Regions from separate parts of the Homo sapiens genome. Here region 1 is linked to region 2. The links come from fine-mapping of genetic effects on gene expression. A gene starts in region 2. The other region holds a variant in brackets. All regions are shown on one strand. Distances are between the middles of the regions.

The links. PIP is the estimated chance that this variant, and not a neighbour inherited with it, causes the effect.
Region 1: its variant is fine-mapped to the expression of SLC25A19 in whole blood (TOPMed, PIP above 0.99).

The regions. Positions count from the first base shown.
Region 1 is chr17:75,111,058-75,123,134 of GRCh38, forward strand. All of the region lies in intron 2 of ARMC7 (armadillo repeat containing 7), which reads left to right. Among named protein-coding and RNA genes, the nearest start is that of ARMC7, 7.1 kb to the left of the region's middle. RefSeq lists enhancers at 2,883-3,422, 3,864-3,923, 3,964-4,013. The variant T/A (reference allele first, on the strand shown) is at 4,257.
Region 2 is chr17:75,283,130-75,295,206 of GRCh38, forward strand. It overlaps SLC25A19 (solute carrier family 25 member 19), which reads right to left and starts at 6,304. Exons shown (of 8, transcript NM_001126121.2): 1 at 6,225-6,304; 2 at 5,373-5,462; 3 at 3,504-3,673; 4 at 3,175-3,330; 5 at 294-464. The coding sequence starts at 3,635. RefSeq lists enhancers at 5,449-5,950, 6,383-6,582, 6,673-6,722, 6,763-6,812 and a silencer at 11,408-11,597.

The sequences.
Region 1 (12,077 bases), 170 kb before region 2:
GAGGCCGAAGTGAGCTGAGATTGTGCTACTGCACTCCAGCCTGGGCGACAGAGTGAGACCATGTCTCAAAAAAATATGTTTTAAAAAGAGCAGTTTTGTAGCCGGGCGCGGTGGCACACACCTGTAATACCAGCACCAGCACTTTGGGAGGCTGAGGTGGGCGGATCACCTGAGGTCAGGAGTTCAAGATCAGCCTGGCCAACATGGTGAAACCCCATCTCTAACTAAAAATACAAAAATTAGCCGGGCATGGTGGTGGGCGCCTGTAATCCCAGCTACTTGGGAGGCTGAGGCAGGAGAATCGCTTGAACCCGGTAGGCAGAGGTTGTAGTGAGCCAAGATGGCACCACCGCACCCCAGCCTGGGCAACAGTGAGACTCTGTCTCAAAAAAAAAAGCAATTTCAGGCGGGTGAGGTGGCTCACACCTTTAATCTCAGCACTTTGTGAGGCCGAAGCAGGGAGATCACTTGAGTTCCGGAGTTCAAGACCAGCCTGGGCAACATGACAAAACCCCATCTCTGCTTTAAAAAAAAAAAAAAAAAAATTAGTCTGGCGTGGTGTCCCAGCTACTCAGGAGGCTGAGGTGGGAGGATTGCTTAAGCCTGGGAGGTCAAGGCTGCAGTGAGCTGGGATTGGGCCACTGTACTCCAGCCTGGGTGACAAAACGAGAATCTGTCTCAAAAACAAAAATAACTCATATTTAGTGTTTTCATATCAAGAGAAGCAGAGATGGCTTGCAGTCTGTAACTTATGGCTTCTGTAGTTGTTATGATCTTAAGACCTATTGAGTTATTCACTGGGTAGATATTTATTGCGCGTGTACCGTATATGCAAGCTACTGCTCTAAATGCTGGAGTATGGTGAACAGCTTAGGGAAAGGTCTTTGCCCCTCAGGAGCTTACATTCTAGTAGGGGGGACAGGTGGTTAGCAAACAAAAAAGATGATGCTCAGAAGGAAGTAAATGGGGTGATGAGAGACAGCAGTGGAAGGTGGGGGTTACTTCAGTTTTGGCCATCATGAGAAAGGCATTTTAGCCGGGACACAGCATGGGCAAAGGCCTTAAAACAGGAAGGAGCCAGACGGAAGGCTGATGTGGGAGGATCGTTGCAGTGAAGTGGAGAATGGCACAAAAAGAGTTTAGAGAGTTCAGTGGCACCAGAGCTTGCAGGAGTTTAGATCTAGGCCGTGGGAAATAGTTTGAAGCAAACAAAATTTTGAGAACAAACAAAAATTCCTTTTTCAAGCAATGCAGTGCCCACCTGTAGTCCCAGATACTCAAGAGGATCGCTTGAGCCCAGGAATTTGAGGCTGTCGTGTGCTGTGATTGCACGATTGCACCTGTGAATAGCCACTGCACTGCAGCCTGGCCAACACGCGCGTAGTCACCTGGCTGAAGTCTTGTCAGGCTTCTCCACTGTAAAATTACTCTTTCTTTCCCCTCTTTACGTATGATACCCATTGGAAGGAAGTCACTACATAAATTATCTTAAATCTCTCTTTTTATTCTCTTTTTCTTTTTTTTTTTTTTTTTTTTGAGATAGGGTCTCACTCTGTCACTTAGGCTGGAGTGCAGTGGTGTGATCATAGCTCACCATAAACTTGAACTCCTGGGCTCAAGCAGTCTTCCTGCCTTAGCCTCCCGAGTAGCTGTGACTACAGGTGTGCACCACCATGCCCAGCTAATTTTTTTTTTTTTTAATTTTTTGTTGTGACAGGATCTCACTGTGTTGCCCAGACTGGTCTCGAACTCCTGGCCCCAAGAAATAAATCCCTTGTAACCCTAAACAGACCCTCATTTCATAACACTGATTCTCGAAGGCCCCAACCAGGAATGCAAATGTTCCCCCTTCCGGTTTGTCTCATTGCCTCTTTGTGGTTTCTTTATCCCCTTTATTTCCTATAATCCAGAAATTGGGTTGAATGTCTTGATAGGATCAAATAACACATTTTTTATTTTATTTTATTTTATTTTATTTTATTTTTTGAGATGGAGTCTTGCTCTGTCGCCCAGGCTGGAATGCGGTGGTGCAATCTCAGCTCACTGCAACCTCTGCCTCCTGGGTTCAGACAGTTCTCCTGCTTCAGCCTCCCGGGTATGGGATTATAGGCGCCCGCCACCACGCCCGGCTAATTTTTGTGTTTTTAGTAGAGACGGGGTTTCACCGTGTTGGCCAGGCTGGTCTCAAACTCCTGACCTCAGGTGATCCGCCCGCCTCAGCCTCCCAAAGTGCTGGGGTTACAGTCGTGAGCCACCACACCTGGCCCAACTAACACATTTTTAAAAATACTTTTTATTTATTTATTTTTTTTTTTGAGATGGAGTCTTGCTCTGTCGCCCAGGCTGGAGTGCAGTGGCGCGATCTCGGCTCACTGCAAGCTCCGCCTCCCGGGTTCACGCCATTCTCCTGCCTCAGCCTCCCAAGTAGCTGGGATTACAGGCGCCCCCCCACCAGGCCCGGCTAATTTTTTGTACTTTTAGTAGAGACGGGGTTTCACCGTGTTAGCCAGGATGGGCTCAATCTCCTGACCTCGTGATCTGCCCGCCTCGGCCTCCCAAAGTGCTGGGATTACAGGCGTGAGCCACCGCGCCCGGCAAAAATACATTATGATAAGTGTGATTCAAATTTTTCAAAGACCATCCAGGTCTCCTCTAAAGAGGAGAGGAGATTCCTGGGGCCAGACTACAAATGAGGGTCTTCTCTCCATGAGGGGGCTCCAGCACATGTGTGTGCGGATTCACACCCCCACAGACAGCTGCCCCTTGGCCACTCCCTGGGTTTGGAAGTGCACACACCAACAGTGGCATTCACTCCTGGGAGTCAGGATCCAAGAGAGAGGCCCATGCAGCCGTGGGAGCAGGTTTAGGGCCTGGAGCTCCAGGTGCAGGGGAAGGACGGCTGTGGGCTTTGGGTGAGCTCCCTGGACTTACTGCCCCACAGAGGACCAGAGTGGGGCCTGCTAAAGCCAAGCCAGGGCAGGAGCCCCAGTTGCCCAGGTCCCCGAGTGATGCCAGCTCCTCTAGAAGATTATTATGCCAAACAAATATTCTAAAAAGTTGGTCTCTAAAACGTCCTCCGTCCCGTCCCTTTTCGTGCCTCTGCCCCCACAGCTGCTGCAGTCTGAACGGTGACGGTGGCCCCTGCAGAAGCATGTGGCTAAATCTCCACCAGGGGGCGATAGAGCTCCTCCAAATCAAGCTGCTGCCCCTGGAGAAAAATTGGCGGAAGTCACAGAGCAGTCCCCACCAAAAGTGTTTACCAAGTGGAGTCTTTCCTGCTGGCGTTTCCTCAGGGTCAGGAAGCAACTTTCCCAGGACAGGGGCACCCTGAGGTCCGGGTCCACTGAGCTATGGGGGCGGCGTGGGCCTGGGCTGGGTTCTTGCCATCCTGGGCAGCTTCCCGGCGTGGGTGACTGAGCCCGGGTCCTGGAGTCCGCGGTCCCAGCGTCTCCACTTCTCAGCTGATTCCTAGAAGCTGAGTCCCGTCCCTTCTCCGAGCGTGGTTTCCTCTCCCGCCTTGCCTGCGTCGCAAGCAGTTGTGGGAGCAGAAGTGTGTCTGTGCATCTGTGTCTCTGTGCAGGTATTTTAGAATTGTTAGGATCATTATCACCAGCTTTACTTTTCCCAACCATTTTTTTCCTCCTTTTTTTCTCTTCCTTCTTCTGCCACAGCAAGACCCCCCCGCCCCAAGCACAGTAGCTTTCTCAGCGTCGAATCCCTCCGTGGGACCATGTTGCAATGAAATTTCAACATGCAAATGAAATTTCTCGAAATTTCTCTTGTGTTTATTATGCATGACTGAGAAGGAGAGCCCCCGCGTATTTTCTTACTGCCGTCGTTTCCCTTTCTCTTAGTGTCTCTGCTTGGGGATCCCCGACAGGCACTTATTCTGCTGTTTCTGGAGAAGGCTCTGTGCTGCGCTTTGGAGCTTTGAGTCTTTTATCCGATGTGGCAGCCCTGAGATTGTGATCTCCCTGAGCCAGAGCCAGCCTTACTTCTGTCTGCATGGTTTGAGTGCTTAGGCCTTTTGGCCTAGGGAGGAGGAAAGAAGGGGAAGAAAAGGCAGGAGATCTTCACTTAATAGGTGTGGAGTCCTGGCCATGACTTGGTGCAACACCCCTGAGCAGGGTTGGTTCTGGAAGGACTGGCACAGTGGAGAGCTGAGTCAGATTGCCCATGGCTGTGGCTCGCAGAACCAAAACCAAGCTGGGTATGGTGGCTCACACCTGTAATCCCATTTGGGAGGCCGAGGGGGG[T/A]GGATCACTTGAGGTCAGGAGTTCGAGACCAGCCTGGCCAACATGGCAAAACCCCGTCTCTACTAAAAATACAAAAATTAGTTGGGTGTGGTGGCGCACACCTGTAGTCCCAGCTACTCGGAGGCTGAGGCAGAAGAGTTGCTTGAACCAGGAGACAGAGGTTGCAGTGAGCCAAGATCACGCCACTGCACTCCAGCCTGGGTGACAGAGCAAGACTCTGTCTCCATAAAAAAAAAAAGGAACCAAAACCATTGTCTGCTTGGTTGAGCAGGGTGGTTCATACCTGTAATCCCAGCATTCTGGGAGGCTGAAGCAAGAGGATTGCTTGAGCCCCCAGGAGGTCAAGAGCAGCCTGGGCAACATAGCAAAACCCTGTCCCTACAAAAACAAACAAAACAAGTATCTGCTTGTTGGCAGGCAGCACAGTGAGTTGGATGAGAGCTGGGCCCTGGGGTCAGGCAGGCATCTGGGTGTGGGCTCTCTCTCCTCCAATCATCTGTCAGATGGGGACAGTGCCAGTAGCTGCTTCACATCAGTTGAGAGAATTAAATGAAACACCACAGTGCTCTTTTAGGGTTAGTGTCTGCAGCCATAGATAGGATTCCCTTGGTTGCCATCCAAAGACAAATACCCAAAACCCTTTGAGGGTGAGCTGTCGCCCCTTGTCCCAGAGAGGTGAGGTGCGGGATGGGATAACGTCCTATCAAGGGAATCACTCATCTGCTCCAGGAATTCTTACCTTCTGGAAAAACATCACGGAATGACAGGAACACCGATCCTCAGCCTCCCAGAGGGTGCCCAGGCAATGTCAGGTGGGGAGAGCCTGGCTGCAGGCCCGGTGCTGTTGTGCCCCCATCACGGATGGCATTAGCTCACACTTGGGGAGCACCCACTGCATGCCAGGCGCTTGCATCTTGTGCATTGGACATAGTACTAAAGTAGATGTGCTTACACCGCCTTCTTTCCAATCAGGACTCTGAGGCTTAGAGAGGTTCTGTGGGCTGGCCAAAGGTTTAAAGAGTACCAGACCTAGGCCGGGCATGGTGGCTGACGCTTGTAATCCCAGCACTTTGGGAGGCCGAAGTGGGCAGATCACCGGAGGTCGGGAGTTCGAGACCAGCCTGACCAACATGGAGAAACCCCATCTCTACTAAAAATACAATTAGCTGGGTGCGGTGGCACGCGCCTGTAATCCCAGCTACTCAGGAGGCTGAGGCAGGAGAATCGCTTGAACCGAGGAGGTGGAGGTTGAGGTGAGCCAAGATCACGCCATTGCACTCCAGCCTGGGCAACAAGAGTGAAACTCCGTCTCAAAATAAATAAAGAGTACCAGACCTGAGACTTAAACCCAGAGCAGTCAGAGTCTACAAGCTAGTCCCTTGGCCCTTTTCCTGCCCTTAGAGGAGTTCCAATTCCTAGGATTGTGGAGCGAAAGCGAGAAAGGAGTTTACTCCAAATTGCTCATTTTATCAATAAGGAAGCTGCGGTGCAGACAGCTGCCCCTCGTCTGGCTGTCGCAGGCCAGGATGAGAATGCAGGCTTCCTTCCGTCTGTCCCTGCAGCCACCACACTCACAGGTACCCTTCCATGCTGGCTTTGCTGTGGCAGCTCTGAGTGAGGTCTGCTCTTTGGCCCAGCACTTCTGCCTCCTCTCTGAGGGCTGGAAGCTGGATGCTATCCAAACAAATGGATTCGCTCACCCTGCACACTAAGGCCAATTACTGACAAAAATCGCAGTGAGAAAGTGAGGCTTTGTTTTTGTTTTTGGTTTTGGTTTTTTTGAGACAGATTCTCACTCCGTTGCCCAGGTTGGAGTGCAATGGTGCAATCTCGTCTCACTGCAACCTCCGCCTACCTGGTTCAAGCAATTCTCCTGCCTCAGCCTCCTGAGTAGCTGGGATTACAAGCACCCGCCACCACACCCAGCTAATTTTTGTATGTTTAGTAGAGACGGGGTTTCGACATGTTGGCCAGGCTGATCTCGAACTCCTCACCTCAGGTGATCCGCCCGCCTCGGCCTCCCAAAGTGCTGGGATTACAGGCGTGAGCCACTGTGCCCAGCCAAAAGTGAGGCCTTTATTGTGGGGCGACAAGCAAGAAGAATCCGGCAGCTCATGCTTAAGACCCAAATTCCCAGATGGCTTATGGTTAAGGGTGTTCAAAGGCAGGAGGCAGAGGTTACAGACAAAGTTTTAAATCAACACCAGGAGGCTATATATTGGTTTGGCCTAAGAAGGCAGGATGTCTCCAAGGGATGGGGCACAGATCATAGGTGGCTTCAAAGATTTTCTGATTTGTGAGTGGTTAAGGAGGTGAAGCTTTGTCTACAAATTTGGCATCAGCAAAAAAGAATGTTAGCTATAACCTGTGGGCATGTCCTCCAGGCCCCTCAGGGAGTCTAAAGAGTGGTCAGAGTGTAGTTTTCAGTTCCCCTTATCTGAGGTCTCAGTGCCAGGGGAATTGTTTGTTGAGGGTCCAGATTTCTGAAAAGCAACTCAAGGACAGATATTAAGATGTTATCTTTAGGCCGGGTGTGGTGGCTCACACCTGTAATCCCAGCACTTTGGGAGGCTGAGGCGGGTGGATCACTTGAGCTCAGGAGTTCAAGACCAGCCTGGCCAACATGGTGAAACCCCGTCTCTACTAAAAATACAAAATCTAGCTGGGTGTGGTGGCAGGAGCCTGTAATCCCAGCTACTCTGGAAGCTGAGGCAGGAGAATCGCTTGAACCCAGGAGGCAGGCAGAGGTTACAGTGAGCCAAGATCGTGCCACTGCACTCCAGCATGGGCGACAAAGCAAGACTGTCTCAAAAAAAAAAAAAAAACAAAGTTATCTTTAGTTTCTATGGGGAAACCAGACATCCCCTGATTCTGACTTCCTTGGCTATTGTTTTAAGCTAACTATTACCTTCTTGCTTATCGAGTTGCTCACTTGCTTCTCAGGGCTAGCTAGGTGCCTGGAATTTCATGAAGGGACTCAAGATTTTCCTTTATTTCCATGCTTGGGGGCCTGCAGGCCCCTAGAGAAGCCCCTGCTCTCTCTCCATGTCAGCCAGGGCTTCAGTCTGGCCTCAAGTGTTCCCATCAGCGGTGGCAGTGGAACTACAGTGGCAGCAACCACTTGCCAACAGGGGCCTGGCCTCACTCACCGTCGTCTCTGTGTGGCGGTCTCTTTCTCCTGTGGCTTCCTCTCAGTTGCCCGCCGTCGGCACCGCCACAGCCATGAGGAAGGATCCGGCTACAGCGACCGCGGAGAACACGCACGGGTTTTCAAGTCTCTGGCCTCTTTTGTGGCCTCTTGTGGATCTGCCCATTTAGAGCAATTGTAGAACTAGTTTATTGACCCTTTCTGTGCTTCTGGCTGCCTTTTCTGCCCAGGGTCCAGGGCTCCTGTTTGGGTGCTGTTGGGATAAAAGCTGCCTCTCCTGGATGCCCGCCCAGTGCACACCATGTGCTCGCCACACGCCCACCTGAACCAGCCTGTCCACAAGGCCTCTGAATCGGTCATGAACGGCAAGGCCGATGGTTCTAACCCCTTTGTACATATCGGGAACCCCCACCACCAAGTGAGGGCAAGTCCACTGCCTGGGGCTCCCGCTGTTAGTGATAACTGGAGCCAGGACTTCGCCCCTGTCATCCAGGATCCAAATTCTGTGCCCTGGGAACCCAGCTGGCACCAGGCTCAGACTCTAGTCCCTTGTTCTGGCCTCAAACTCCTGGGCTCAAGTGATCCTCCGACCCCAGCCTCCCAAAGTGCTAGGATTACAGGCATGAGCCACTGCACCCAGCCCCAGTGGCAGTTCCTCTATGACACTGGTACACTGGACTGTACACTGGTACACTGGTACACTGGACTGGTACACTGGACTATTCACAGGGGATTATTTGTTCTTGGGTTTTCCTTCAGTGTCTTGAAAATGGCTCCTTCAATTTCAAGTCTGAAGGACAGACAGTACATAGAGTAAGCTACCCTTTGTGTGAGAAGGCAGGGTGGAGATGAACACACCTCTGTGTATGCACTCACGCTGGCAAGACACAAAAGTGTAATAAGGAAATGGGTTAGTACGAGGCAGGGAACAAGGTAGAAGGGACCAGAATGGTGGTGAGACTTCTGAAAATACCCTGTGATACAGTTTTTTCTTTTTTTTTTTTTGAGACGGAGTTTCGCTCTGTCGCCCAGGCTGGAGTGCAGTGGCGCGATCTCGACTCACTGCAAGCTCCGCCTCCCGGGTTCACGCCATTCTCCTGCCTCAGCCTTCCCAGCAGCTGGGACTACAGGCACCCGCTACCACGCCCAGCTAATTTTTTTTGTATTTTTTTTTTTTTTTAGTAGAGACAGGGTTTCACCGTGTTAGCCAGGATGGTCTCGATTTCCTGACCTTGTGATCCGCCTGCCTCGGCCCTCTCAAAGTGCTAGGATTACAGGCGTGAGCCACCACGCCCAGCCTGCTGTGAAGACTTTGACCCTGGGCTGCTTCAGCTCAGCATGGGCGAGTCCCCAGATGTAGCTGTATTTTGAGCTGCCCTTGCCGAGGGCCTGCCCAGCCACCAGGTGCCAGGTGCCAGCTAAGCACTTGTCAGAAGCATCACCTCGTTTTGTTTTGTTTTTGAGATGGAGTCTCGCCCTGTTGACCAGGCTGGAGTGCAGTGGCATGATCTGGGCTCATTGCAACCTCCGCCTCCCAAGTTCAAGCCATTCTCCTGCCTCAGCCTCCCAAGTAGCTGGGACTACAGGTGAGTGCCACCATGCCCAGCTAATTTTTGTATTTTTAGTAGAGATGGAGTTTTGCCATGTTGGCCAGGGTGGTCTTGAACTCCTGACCTCAGGTGATCCACCCTCGGCCTCCCAAAGTGCTGGGATTACAGGCATGAGCCCCCACGCCCGGCCAGCATCACCTCATTTAATCCCTGGGACCATCCTTCAACCTTCCCTTCATGGTCCAGGTTGTCCCTCCCTGCACCAGTGCCCAACATGGCGTGTGAGCTGAGGTCACCCACCTGACCTCCCTGAGTCTCCGGCTTTCTCATCTTGCTTTCATGTGGGGTTTCCTCTTTTGCCTCTCCAGGGTTCTCGTGTAGAGTTCCTGTGTGTCCTGATGTCTGGAAGGCCCTGCCCTTGCTTCTTGTTTTCTCTCTGTCTTGTGCAGAGCATGTTCATCAGGAAGTCGGAACTTGTTCTCCTTTCTGTTTTATAACGATTTTTAAGACTGCAGTATGGTGGCTGGGCACGGTGGCTCAGGCCTGTAATCCCAGCACTTTGGGAGGCCGAGGCGGGCGGATCACGAGGTCAGGAGATCAAGACCATCCTGGCTAATACGGTGAAACCCCATCTCTACTAAAAATACAAAAAATTAGCTGGGCATGGTGGCGGGCACCTGTAGTCCCAGCTACTCAGGAGGCTGAGGCAGGAGAATCACTTGAACCTGGGAGGCGGAGATTGCAGTGAGCTGAGATCGCACCACTGCACTCCAGCCTGGGCGACAGAGCAAGACTCGGTCTCAAAAAAAAAAAAAAAAAAAAAGATTGCAGTATGATCAACAGAATAAAATGCACATATCTTAAGTGTCAGTTTGGTGAATTTTGAAATTCATTGAGCTATGTGTACATCCATGTAAGCAGCTCCTAAACCAAGACGTAGAAACTCCCTTCACACCCACGCTGGGTCAGTATCTCCCACTCCAAGGCAACCACTATTCTAACCTCTATCCTGTGGATTTGCTTTGCCTGTTCTTGAACTTCATACAAACAGAACCATGCAGGATCTACTCTCGTATCTGATTTCTTTCACTCAACATTATGTTTTTCAGATTCATCCAAATTATTGCAGTATCATCCATTCCTTTGGATGTGCCACAATTTGTTCATGCATCTGCCTGTAGACGGAGATTTGAATTGTTTCTAGTTTAGAAGCTTTATGAATGAAGCTGTTAGGATCATGTTCATACAAATATGTACTCATTTCTCTCACCTAGGAGTGGAGTTGCTCAGTCCTAGGGTAGATGTGCGTTTAACGTCATGAGAAGCTGCCAAATCACTTTCCACGTAGTTACACCAGGTTATGCTATATGCTCCACTTCCTTGCCAACACTTAGTATTGGCCTTTTTTTGTTTGTTTTTGAGATGGAGTCTCGCTCTGTCGCCTACGCTGGAGCACAGTTGGCACAATCTCGTCTTGCTGCAACCTCCGCCTCCTGGGTTCAAGCAATTCTCCCACCTCAGCCTCCGGAGTAGCTGAGGTTGCATGTGTAGGCCACCATGCCTAGCTAATTTTTGTATTTTTAGTAGAGACAGGTTTTCGCCATGTTGGCCAGGCTGGTCTGGAACTCCTGACCTCAAGTGATCCACCCTCCTCGGCCTCCCAAAGTGCTGGGATTACAGGTGTGAGCCACTGCACGCAGCAGCAGTGTTTTTTATTTTTGCTATTATGTTGAGTGTGTAGTGGCATGTTCTTGTGGTTATACTTTTTATTTCTCTGATACGTAATGAGCACAGTTCCATATGTTTTGGCCCTTTTGCAAAGAAGACTTTGTTTAAGTCTTTTTGCTCATTTTCAAAATTGGGTTGTTCATCTTTTATTGATATGCAGGAGTTCTTGATGTGTTCTGGATACCAGCGTTCTGTCAGATGGATAGTCAGTGAATGTTTTCTCCTTTTGCCTTTTTACTGTGTTAATGGTGTCGTTTGATGAGTTATTCTCCTATCTCAGTGAAATTCAGCTTTTAAAAAAGAATAACATCTGGCCAGGTGTGGTGGCTCACGCCTATAATCCCAGCACTTTGGGAGGGCGAGGCAGGTGGATCACAGGGTCAGGAGTTCAAGATAAGCCAGGCCAAGATGGTGAAACCCCATCTCTACTAAAAATACAAAAGGAAATTAGTCGGGCATGTTGACGGGCGCCTGTAATCCCAGCTACTCGGGAGGCTGAGGCAGAGAACCCCGGAGGTGGAGGATGCAGTGAGCCGAGATTGCGCCACTGCACTCCAGCCTGGGCGACAGAGCAAAACTCCGTCTCAAAACAAAAACAAAAAAGAATAATATCTTTTAAAATTATTATTATTATTATTTTTGACGGGGTTTCACTCTTGTTGCCCAGGCTGGAGTGCAGTGGAGTGATCTCGGCTCACCGCAACCTCCGCCTCCTGGGTTCAAGCGATTCTCCTGCCTCAGCTTCTCGAGTAGCTGGGACTACGGGCGTGTGCCACCACGCCCAGCTAATTTTTTGTATTTTTAGTAGAGATGGGGTTTCACCATGTTGGCAAGGCTAGTCTTGAACTCCTGACCTCAGGTGATCCTCCTGCCTCACCACCCAAAGTGCTGGGATTACAGGAGTGAGCCACTGTGCCTGGCCCTGGCTTTTTTAATTTTTAAAAGAATATCTGTAGAGATAACGTTTTCCTATTTATTAAACACCTGCTAATGCGAGGCTGCTGATAGAGAATGAGACAAGGCAGAGTCCCCATTCTCACGGAGTTTATAGTTTAGTGGAGCAACAGCCAATATTTTGACAAATAACTACTGTAATGTCAGTAAGTGTGAAGGAAAGAAGCAAAGCCTGGTGAGGGGGGCGTGGTGGGGGGGCAGGTTAGGTGCTCACAGAAAGCTCTTAGAGGAGGTGGCGTCTTAGCGGGCCTATCTTATTGTATGTACAATCTGGTGTCCTTCTTCCCTCCTTCATCTTAAATTACAGGCATTTTCTAACATGAATTATTCTTTGGACACTTTTTTTTTTTTTTTTTAATTTTTGAGGTGAAGTCTCACTCTGTCGCCCAAGCTGGATTGCAGTGGCACGATCTCAGCTCACTGCAACCTCCACCTCCTGAG
Region 2 (12,077 bases):
TCTACTAAAAATACAAAAAAAATTAGCCAGGCGTGGTGGCGGGTGCCTGTAATCCCAGCTACTCGGGAGGCTGAGGCAGGAGAATCGCTTGAACTCGGGAGGTGGAGCTTGCAGTAAGCCAAGATCGCACCACTGCACTCCAGCCTGCATGACAGAGCGAGATTCTGTCTCAAACAAAACAAAACAGAACAAAACAAAAATAAATAAATAAATAAATAAAAAATAAAGAATGCTACCCCTGTGACAACACCTTCCTTATTTGGGCTTCCCCGGTCTGGCTCCTGGCCACTCACCTTGGGCTCACCCTGAGCTGCAAAGCGGGTGCGCAGAACATCCACGGGGTGCACAGTGAGGGTGGCCATACAGGCAGCCAGGCCACCACATACAAAGTGCACTGAGAATTCCCGGGCGTCATACACGCTGCCTCTGTGGACCAGCTCCGTCAGCATTTCAAATGACAAGAACTGCAAGAGTAAGTGAAGAAGTCACCGACAGCCCAAAGGATGAGGGTGAGGACCAAATACTCCCCAAATACATCACCCGTGACCCGGCTGGGGCCCAGGTGGAGGGGCGAGGAAAAGGTCAGGAAATGTTCTTCTTGAGCAGTGACAGCATATGATAAATACAACATTCTACGCAAAACTCGGATGCCATTTGATACTTGAGTAGAGTCAGACACTCAAAGGGTTAAGAAGATATATGGGGGCCAGGTGCAGTGGCTCACACTTGTAATCCCAGCACTCTGGGGGGCCGAGGCGGGCAGATCACGAGGTCACAAGTTCGAGACCAGCCGGGTCAACATAGTGAAACCCTGTCTTTACTAAAAATACAAAAATTAGTCAGGCATGGTGGCGGGCACCTGTAGTCCCAGGTACTTGGGGGGCTGAGGCAGGAGAATCACTTGAACCCGGGAGGCAGAGCTGCACTGAGCCAAGATCATGCCACTGCGCTCTCCAGCCCGGGCGACAGAGCAAGACTCGGTCTCAAAAAAAAGACTGGGTGCAGTGGCCCACGCCTGTAATCCCAGCACTTTGGAAGGCCGAGGTGGGCAGATCATGAGGTCAGGAGTTGGAGACCAGCCTGGCCAATATGGTGGAACCCTGTCTCTACTAAAAATACAAAAATTAGCCAGGCATGGTGGCGTGGGCCTGTAACCCCAGCTACTTGGGAGGCTGAGGCAGAAGAATCGCCTGAACCCAGGAGGCGGAGGTTGCAGTGAGCTGAGATTGCGCCACTGCACTCCAGCCTGGGCAACAGAGTGAGACTCTGTCTCAAGAAAAAATAAAAAAGATACATGAGAACAATGTATATCAGAAAATGTCACTGGCTAACTTAGTTTTCTGAGAACTGGGGAAGACGGCCATGCTCTGATTCCTGCAGGGACCCCTTCAGTGCAGCTGGCGGCGGCACCTGGTGGCGGCACTGTTCGAGAATCATTCTTTTCTGGGGCAGATTCTTTTGGGAGCATGTTCCACAGGGTGACCCCCTTACATTCAGATCTTTCTTTTTTTTTTTTTTTTTTTTTTTTTAGGGACAAGAGTGTCTCTCTGTCACCCAGGCTGGAGTACAGTGGCACAAACACGGCTCACTGCAGCCTCAACCTCCTGGGCTCCAGTGATCCTCTCACCTCAGCTCCTCAAGTAGCTGGGATTACAGGCGCATGCCACCATGTCCAGCTAATTTTGGTATTTTTTGTAGAACCAGGGTTTCACTATGTTGCCAAGGCTGGTCTCAAACTCCTGAGCTCAAGCAATCTGCCCGCCTTGGGCTCCCAAAGGGCTGAGATTACACACATGAGCCACCGAGCTTGGCCCTGTTTTGCTTTTTGAGGCAAGGTCGTGCTCAGTTGCCCAGGCTGGAGTGCAGTGGCTCGATCACAGTTCACAGCAGCCTTGACTTCTCTAGCTCAAATTATTCTCCTGCCTCTGGAATAGCTGGGACGACAGGTGTGTACCACCATATCTGGCTAATTTATTTTTTATTTTTAGTAGAGAGGAGGTCTCCCTAATGTTGCCCAGGCTGGTCTCAAACTCCTGAGCTCAAGCCATCCTCCCACCTCAGCCTCCCAAAGTGATGGGATTACAGGTGTGAGCCACTATACCAGGGCTATGCTCAGATCTTCCTTCAGCCAACTGAAGATGGCCTGGCTTCTTTTCTTTTTTTGAGACAGGGTCTGGCTGTGTTGCCCAGGCTGAAGTGCAGTGGCATGATCGTGGCTCACTGCAGCCTCCGCCTCCCGGGCTCAGATGCTGGGATTACAGGTGTGAGCCACTGAGTCCAGCCCACGCCTGGCTTCTTGAGACTATCCTGTTGCTGTATTTATTCGTCATGCTGCAATATCTGTTTGCAGACAAGTGCAGAGACAGGATCGCAGGGCATGCCCAGCCAGTAAGCACCTGACTTGGGCGGTCACTGTGATGTCACAGGAAGAGTAGGAAGGGACATCTCTGGCACTAGCTGCCTAGGTGGGGGTCGTGGCTCTGCCATTTTCTAGCCAGTGGCTTTGGTTGGGTTAATTATGTAAGCTCTGTCCACCTCAGTCTTCTCATGCATGACATGGGAGGGACAACAGCCCCTACCTTAAGGACTGCTGTGACAGAGTGTATGTGAAGTGCTTCCAACAGGGGCCTGGCCCATGGTTTGCACTGTACAGGGCTGGTTCTTAAACACATCTACTGCATAAAATCACATGCTGTGCACTATGACTATACTAGTGCTCCACTGAACGAAGCATGAGTTCTAACCCTAGCCCCGCCATGTGCAGGCTGTGTGGCCTCGGACAGCTGACTTCTCCTCCCTGAGATCCACATGACAGCTACCCTGCCCTCCTCATGACGGTGTGGTGAAGTTCAGATGAACCACATATGTGAAGGTGGTATTTCAAAAACTGAAATGCATTAGTGCTGTCCTTCGCCAAGCCTCACAGAAGGCATGACATCAAATCGGTCTCCAAGATGCAACACCTAAGTCACACAGGATAGACGCAGGGACATGGCGGAGGGCAATGCCTACGGTACTGCTGGTCAGGAAGGCTCCCGGGTGAGGCAGGTGGGAAGCGTGGGGCCTGCCTCTTCCGTCCTGCCCTGCGCGGCATTCCTGCTTGCCTCACCCTCCCTCTGCTCCTCCACTGAGCAACGTGACCCCAGAGGTCTGGCCAGGTCCCTTGCCACCTACTTGGACAGCTCCATAGCCTATGGAGAGAATCTGAGCTGGGACGTGTCCTTTCCAGAAAGCTGTCGGACCCTCCTCCTGCAGAATCTGCCTAGAGGCCTGGAGGATGCCATGGTACTTTGCGCTGGGGTCACTGCGAGACAGGCGCTCATGCTGAAGCTAGGAATCAAAATAAAAAAGGTCAGGACAGTGGGGTGGGCTGGAATGTGAAGGGGAACTTTCAGAAAAGGCAAGCCCTTCATCTGGATAGAATTCCAAGTTTTAGGAACTGCTTTTGCAAGAAAGACTGAACTTGTCCTCCAGTCCATTGCATGGAAAAAGGGGAAGAGTACCTGGAAACGGATCTTGATGACGTCGAAGGGACTGATCAGCGCCCGAGTAACAAGTCCAGACACAGACCCAGCCACTGCCACCTGGAACTTGGTGTTATTCCTGCCATCTGGTTTGGGGTCATAGCCAACCATCCCTGCCTCTGGCCCACACAATGTCCATCAGTATCAAGCTAAATGCAAGAGATACGGAATAAACACCAGGCAAGTTTCTTATGGTCTCTGCTCAAATATCACCTCCTCAGAGCAGCCCTCCCTGACTAGACTGTCTAAAATAGCACTCACTTTTGGACTGGGCGCAGCGGTTCATGCCTGTATCCCAGCACTTTCGGAGGCCGAGGTGGGTGGATTGCTTGAGCTCAGGAGTTCAAGACCAGCCTGGGCAACACTGCAAAACCCCAACTCTACAAAAAATACAAAAATTTAAAAATAAAATAAAATAGCACTTGTTTTATTCCTCTTTACAGTACTTATTACTATGGCATATTTGTTTACTTTTTTAGAGACAGGGTCTCACTCTGTTGCCCAGGCTGGAATGCAGTGGTGCCATCATAACTCACCATAGCCTTGAACTCCTGGGCTCAAGTGATTCTCTTGCCTCAGCCTCCCAATTAGCTGTCACTTAACAGGTGCAGGCCTGGCTAAGTTTTTTATTTTTGTAGAGATAAGGTCTCAATGTTGCCCTGGCTGGTCTCGAACTCCTGGCCTCAAGTGATTCTCCTGCCTCAGCCTCCTGAATTGCTGAGATTACATGCATGAGCCACAGCGCCCGGCACGCCATGGGTTATTTATACAGTACATTTGTTTCTTGTCTCTCTCCCTGACTAGAATGTAAGCCCGTGGAAACACGACCTTGGTCTCATTTGTTCACTCGTAAATTTCCGGTTCCTGGAATAGAGCCCATCATGGTAAGTGCTTAATAATATTTGAGAATCGAATGAACAGGCTTGATAGGCAATTGTTGGTCCCAGAGATCAACTGGTTTTCCAAGACATCTGGCAACTTTATAGCAAACTCCTGCTCACTGAGTGAGCCCACTCAAGTGTAACGCTGAGGGACTGAAGGACGTGCAGGGCTGGAGAACAGGGATTGGGATTCTTTAACAATCCCCCACTGTCCAAAGGAAGAGCCCTGAGGCCCTGAGCCCCTTCACCTTTCCCTTTCCCCTCCTGCACACACCTCAGACCACCCCGGCACAGTGGGGCCATGCTACGCTAGCAAATGATGCTCCTGGCCAGGCACCGTGGCTCACGCCTGTAATCCCAGCACTTTGGGAGGCCGAGGCGGGTGGATCGCCTGAGGTCAGGAGTTCAAGACCAGTCTGGCCAACATGGTGAAACCCTGTCTCTAATAAAAATACAAAAATTATCTGGGTGTCGTGGTGGGCGCCTGTAATCCCAGTTACTTGGGAGGCTGAGGAGGGAGAATCACGTGAGCCTGGGAGGCAGAGGTTGCAGTGAGCTGAAATCACGCCATTGCACTCCAGCCTGGGCTACAGAGTGAGACTCCGTCTCAAAAACAAAAAAACAAAACAAAACAAAAAAGAAAATGACGCTCCTGGGCTCCCCTGACTCAGACCTACTGACCTCTTCAGCCTCACTCTGGACCACTCTTCCCCTTCCCTCATTTAACCAGAGTGGTCTGACTGCTTCTGCCCAGTTCCTGGAAAACTCGGGGAGCACTCCTATCAATTGCCTTGCCTCTACTCCTCCAGTTCCCTACGTCTGAAATACAGCCCCACTCTCAGCCCCTACTCACTTTTTCAAGGCTAGCTCCTCTCATCCACCAGAGCTCAGCTAAAAAGCATCCCTTCCAGGAGATGTACTTTTTTCCTTTTTTGTAAAAACAAAAAACAAAAACAGTAATACCTACATACGGTCTGTAGAGTTGTACAAAGCATAGAAAGAAGTCTGTAACCACACACATCAACAGGTAGTTGGTAACTGATCACAGGGAGAAGGGCTGAGAAGGGAAAAAGGAAGGTAGACCTGTCGATAATTCTATACTGTTTGAATTTGTTATGGCAAAAAAAAAAAAAAAAAATCCCTAAAACTAGCCTTCAGAATTACCCTAGTTCTTGAATACTTGTAGTAGTGGGGGTGGGGGTGGGGGAGGAGGGGAGATACTACCTACAGGATGGCAGCCTCCACCCCAGACATCAATTCCTTTTCTCCTCTCACCCACCCTGGAACTCCTCCCCAGGCGCCCATGAGGAAGTTTAAACACGCGGCAAGCGACTGAGAGGCAAAACCTCTCCAGGGGTTACCCAGGGACCGCTCAGGTCACACTGAGCAGCGTGTTTCCCGCCCATCTGGGCAGAAAGGAGGAGCAAGCCCGAGTGGCAGGTGTCCTGGATCGCTGTCAGGAGACCGGAGCATACCAGGCTCTTCCTGGTGTTCGGGTGCCCATGTGCCCAAGGGCTCAGCTGAGCAAATCTGCAGAGGTCCCCGTGTGGGTACCTAGGTGTCCACGTGTGCCTCGGGGTGTGTTTTTTCTCCTTGAGTCCGAGGGGACGCCCTGGAGCTCAGGTGCTCAAGGGCGTGCGCGGGGCTCGGCCGCCGGTGTCCCTGGAGATGCTTCTCTGGTCTGGTGTGACACGTGTGTACACAGTCCCCGCCCTCTCGTGAGCGCCCGGGTGCGTGTGCTCCCTCCCGACCACCCTGAGGAGCGAGGGTGCTGGTCCCCGAGAGGGCGGCGAGAAGGACGGAGGTAGAGGTTACTCACACGGCTCGGCGGGTGCGGCCCGGCTCAGCGCTCTCCGCTCTCTCTAGCTCCTCGCGCAGTCTTAACAGCAAAACTCTACTGAGCTCGGACGAAACTGGCGGGCTCCTGGGCCAATCACCGTGCAGCTCCCCGCCAGACGCTGGACCAATGGTTGTGCGCTTGAGGTCTGGCAACCGCCTCCCGCAAGATATCACCGGGTAATGTAGTCCTTCGCGACCAAGGGCAGGACAGCTGGACGGCGCACAGCTTCCTGGGAGATGTAGTCCGGCTGCTCGCGGGCGCGCGAGTTCGACCGACGCGTTAGAAGGAGGTGCCTTGCGAAGCCGGGCTGCGACCTTAGGGGTCGCCGTGCTCTGGCGTGTGACTCGAAAGTCAGCCTGCAGGCGGGGTCCAAGGTTAGGGCGCGGTAGACTTGACCCGCTTTCCTCAAACTCTGTTAATGCCAGAACCCGGATAATCTCAACTTGGTAAAGATGGCAGGAAGCCTAGCAAAAAGCTGGAGGACGTCGGGAAGAGAATAGATGAGAACAGTCCCCTCGGGGACGGGGAAGGCAAAAACACGAGTGTCCCCCCCTCTCACCCCGAGTTTTAGTATTTCTCATTATAAAAGTAATATTAAAAGTATATAGACAGAAAATATAGAAAGGAAGGAGGAAATGACTCATCCTACCGCCCGCACACAACTAGCGTCACGGTTTTGCGCGACAGTATTGCCTCCTGACTTTTTAATTGCATTTTTATATTCGTGTTATCATTTTGACGCACAATTTTAAGACATTTTTATTGTAGAAAATTTCAAGATACACAGAAGTGGAATAACCCGATGAAGCCGCGTAGAGTCGCTCTCCGACCTCAGCAGTTACGCGACTCATGGGGCAATCTTGTTTCCTCTATTTCTGCACCTACCTCGCACGCGCTGCCCAGCGTTATTCTGAAGTAAATACCATCACGTGTTTTCACCAGTAAATATTTCAGTATGTGTCTTTAAAGGACAAGCATTCCCTTTTTAATACGTATACATTATGCTTCACACACACACAAAACTGTCACTCCGACCCCCCAAAAAAACTTTTAATATCAAATATGAATTAGTGTTTACACTTTTCTGAAAGAAAGAAATGTTCTTCTTTTTTTTTTTTTTTTTTTTTTTTTTTTTTTTTTTTTTTTTTTGAGACAGTTTTGCTCTTGTCGCCCAGGCTGGAGTGCAATGGTGCTATTTCAGCTCACTGCAACCTTTGCCTCTGGGGTTCACACGATTCTCCTGCCTCAGCCTCCCGAGTAGCTGGGATTACACGCGTGCACCACTATGCCCAGCTAATTTTTTGTATCTTTAGTAGAGATGGGGTTTTGCCATGTTGGTCAGTCTGGTCTCAAACTTTTTTTTTTTTTTTGAGACAAGAGTCTCACTCTGTCACCCAGGCTGGAATGCAGTGGCACGATCTCGGCTCGGTGCAACCTCCACCTCCCGGGTTCAGGTGATTCTCCTGCTTCAGCCTCCTGAGTAGCTGGGACTACAGGCCTGCACCACCATACCCAGCTAATTTTTGTAGTTTTAGTAGAAACGGGGTTTCACCATGTTGGCCAGGCTAGTTTTGAACTCCTGACCTCAAGTGATCCACCCAGCTCGGCCTCCCAAGGTTCTGGGATTACAGGTGTGAGCCACCGTGCCTGGCTGAAATGTCCTTCTTAAAACAAGTTGTTTGCTTTTCTTTCTTTTTTTTTTGAGACGGAGTCTAGCTCTGTCCCCCAGGCTGGAGTGCAGTGGCGCGATCTTGGCTCACTGCAAGCTCCGCCTCCCGGGTTCACGCCATTCTCCTGCCTCAGCCTCTCCAAGTAGCTGGGACTACAGGCGCCCGCCACCACGCCCGGCTAATTTTTTGTATTTTTAGTAGAGATGGGGTTTCACCGTGGTCTCGATCTCCTGACCTCGTGATCTGCCCGCCTCGGCCTCCCAAAGTGCTGGGATTACAAGCGTCAGCCACCATACCCAGCCACAAGTTTGCTTTTCTAAGTGACAGAGCTCAGAAAACAAACAAAAATGTTTGTCTGAATTGAGATCTTGGTTGGGTGCAGTGGCTCACACCTGTAATCCCAGCACTGGGAGGCTGAGGTGGGTGGATTGCTTGAGGTCAGGAGTTCAAGACCAGCCTGACCAACATGTGAAACCGCGTCTCTACTAAAAATACAAAAATTAGCCAGGCATGGTGGTAGGCGCTTGTAATTCCAGCTACTTGGGAGGCTGAGGCAGGAGGATCACTTGAACCTGGGAGGGAGAGGTTACAGTGAGCCGAGATCGTGCCACTGCACTCCAGCCTGGGCAACAGAGTGAGACTCCGTCTCAAAGAAAAGAAAAAGAGTTGAGATCTGAACTGAACATTGCAACTGGAAGTCCTTTTAAAAATCTATTGTTTTTCTCCACTTTACTTTTTTTTTACTTGAAATTTGTTTTCTTTCATTTCCTTTCATTTTCCTTTCTTTCTCTATTTTATTATATTTGTTTTTTTTTAAGAAACTAGATAGAGCCAGGCTGGGGGTGCACACCTGTATTCCCAATATTAGGGAGACTGAGGGAGGAGGATCCCTTGAGCCCAGAAGTTCAAAGCTGTAGTGTGCAAAAATAGTGCCTGTGAATAGCCACTGTGCTCCAGCCTGGGAAACATAGCGACACTCCATCTCTACAAAAACTAAATAATACATTTTTTAAAAGAAAGAAATTAAGTGGTTTATGCTGTGGCATTTTCCCTAGTCTGGATTTTGCTGATCGCATCCCCATGGAGTTGTTTCCACATCTTCCTGTGTCCCTTGTGTTTTTTGTTTGTTTGTTTGTTGTTGTTGTTGCTGTTTTTGAGACAAAGTCTCACTCAGTTGTCCAGGCTGTGGTGCAATGGTGCAATCTCGGCTCACTGCAACCTGTGCCTCCTGGGTTCAAGGGATTCTCCAGCCTCAGCCTCCCAAGTAGCTGGGATTACAGGCACCCGCCATCATGTCCAGCTAATTTTTGTATTTTTAGTAGAGATGAGGTTTCACCATGTTGGCCAGGCTGGTCTCGAACTCCTGACCTCAGCTGATCTGCCTGCTTTGGCCTCCCGAAGTGCTGGGATTACAGGCGTGAGCCACCACACCTGGCCCCTATGTCCCTTGTGTTCTCTGCTAATTGGTAATTAGATCTAAAAGGTTTGATTAGACTGGGTTTGACTTTTTTTTTTTTTAGATAAGGTCTCACTTTGTCTCCCAGGCTAGAGTGCAGTGACACGATCTCAGCTCACTGCAGCCTCTACCTCTTGGGGTCAAGCTATCCTTCTGCCTCAGCCCCTAGTAGCTGGGACTACAGGCACGCGCCACCACACCCAGCTAATTTTTTGTATTTTTTGTAGAGACGGGGTTTTGCCATGTTGCCCATGGCAGTCTTGAACTCCTGAGCTCAGGCAATCTGTCTGCTTCAGCCTCCCAAAGTGCTAGGATTACAGGTGTCAGCCACTGAACCTGGCCTGATTTTTAAAATTTATTTCTTTATTTTTTGAGACAGAGTCTCACTCTGTCCTCCAGGCTGGAGTGCAGTGGCGCAATCGCAGCTCGCTGCAAACTCCGCCTCCTGAGTTCAAGCGATTCTCCTGCTTCAGCCTCCTGAGTAGTCGTGATTACAGGCATGTGCCACCTCGCCCAGCTAATTTTCGTATTTTTAGTAGAGACGGGGTTGTTTCACCATGTTGGTTGGGCTGGTCTCAAATTCCTGACCTCATGATCTGCCCGCCTTGGCCTCCCGAAGTGCTGGGATTACAGACGTGAGCCACTGCGCCCAGCCTTTTTTTTTTTTTTTTTTTAGACAGAATCTTGCTGTGTTGTCCAGGCTGGAGTACAGTCATACAGTAGTGTGATCTTGGCTCACTGCAACCTCCGCCTCCAGGGTTCAAGCGACTCTCCTGCCTCAGCCTCCTGAGTAGCTGGTACTACAGGCACATGCCACCAAACCTGGCTAATTTTTGTACTTTTAGTGGAGATGACGTTTCACCACATTGGCCAGGCTTGTCTCAAACTCCTGACCTCAAGTGATCTGCCCACTTTGCCCTTCCAAAGTGCTGGGATTACAGGCATGAGCCACTGTGCCTGGCCTGATTTTTTTTTTTGTAAAGACAGTCTCGCTCTGTTGCCCAGGCTGGAGTGCAGTGGCACAATCTTGGTTCACTGCAACCTCTGCCTCCTGGGTTCAAGCAATTCTCTTGCCTCAGCCTCCTGAGTAGCTGGGATTACAGATGCCCTCCACCATGCCCGGCTAATTTTTGTATTTTTAGTAGAGATGGGATTTCACCATGTTGGTCAGGCTGGTCTCGAACTCCTGACCTCAGGTGATCCACCTGCCTCAGCCTCCCAAAGTGCTAGGATTACAGGCATGAGCCACGGCGCCCGGCCAACGTTTTTTTTTTTTTTTTTTTTTTTTTTAAATGAGACTACTTACATGGTGTTGTGTATTTCCATGAGGAACACCATAATGCCTGCTTGTCTGTCATTTTGTGATGTTTGCAGCCATCGTGTCTCAAAAAAGAATTGGTTCCTGGCCAGATGCGGTGGCCCACACCTGTACCAGCACTTTGGGAGGCCAAGCTGGGTTGGTCATCTTGAGGTCAGGAGTTTGAGACCAGCCTGGCCAACATTGTGAAACCCCTGACCTCAAGTGATTTGCCTGCTTCAGCCTCCCAAAGTGCTAGGATTACAGGCATGAGCCACCGTGCCTGGCCTTAATTTTTGGTAGAGACAGCATAGGATCTCCCTATGCTGCTCAGGCTGGTCTTAAACTCCTGGGCCTCCCAAAGTCCTGGGATTACAGGTGTAAGCCACCATGCCTGGCCTTTACCAAAGAAATCTTTGCCTAGTCAAAGGTTATAAAGATTTTCTCCTATGTTTTCTAATAGAAATTTTATAGTTTTAGGTTTTACATCTAGGTCTCTGATCCATTTTTAGTTATTTTTTGTTTGGTATGAGATATTGAAGGTTTTTTTCTTGTACTTGGATATTTAATTGTTCTAGTACATGGAACTCTGTTTTTGTTGAAAAGTCTATTCTTTCTCCACTAAACTGCTCTGTTCATGTTTGTTGAAAATCAGTTCATGTGTACACAAAATGATGACCTTTTTTCTTTTTTCACTCAATGCAAGTAATGATAAGCATTGTCCACACAGGAAAAAGATAGTTAAAGGTGTTGCCGGGCACGATGGCTCACGCCTGTAATACCAGCACTTTGGGAGGCCGAGGTGAATGGGTCACCTAAGGTCAGAAGTTCAAGACCAACCTGGCCAACATGGTGAAACCCCGTCTCTACTAAAAGTACAAAAATTAGCTGGGCATGGTGGCAGGTGTCTGTTATCCCAGCTACTCAGGAGGCTGAAGCAGGAGAATCACTTGAACCCAGGAGGCGGAGGTTGCAGTGAGCTGAGATCACACTACTGCACTCCAGCCTGGGTGGCAAGAGTGAGACTCCATCTCAAAAAAAAAAAAGATGTTAAGGTGGGCTTGGTGCAGTGACTCATGCCTGTAATCCCAGCACTTTGCGAGGCCGAGACAGGTGGATCACTTGAAGTGAGGAGTTCGAGACCAGCCTGGCCAACATGGTGAAACCCCGTCTCTACTAAAAATACAAAAATTATCTGGGCGTGGTGGTGGGCACCTGTAATCCCAGCTACTCAGGAGGCTGAGGCAGGAGAATCACTTGAACCTGGGAGGAGGAGGTTGCAGTGAGCCGAGATCACTCCACTCCAGCCTGGACAACACAGCAAGACTCCATCTCAAAAATAAACAAAAATAAATAAATAAATAAAAATAAAGATGTTAAGTTGGCCCATAATGGGCAGAACCTAAAAA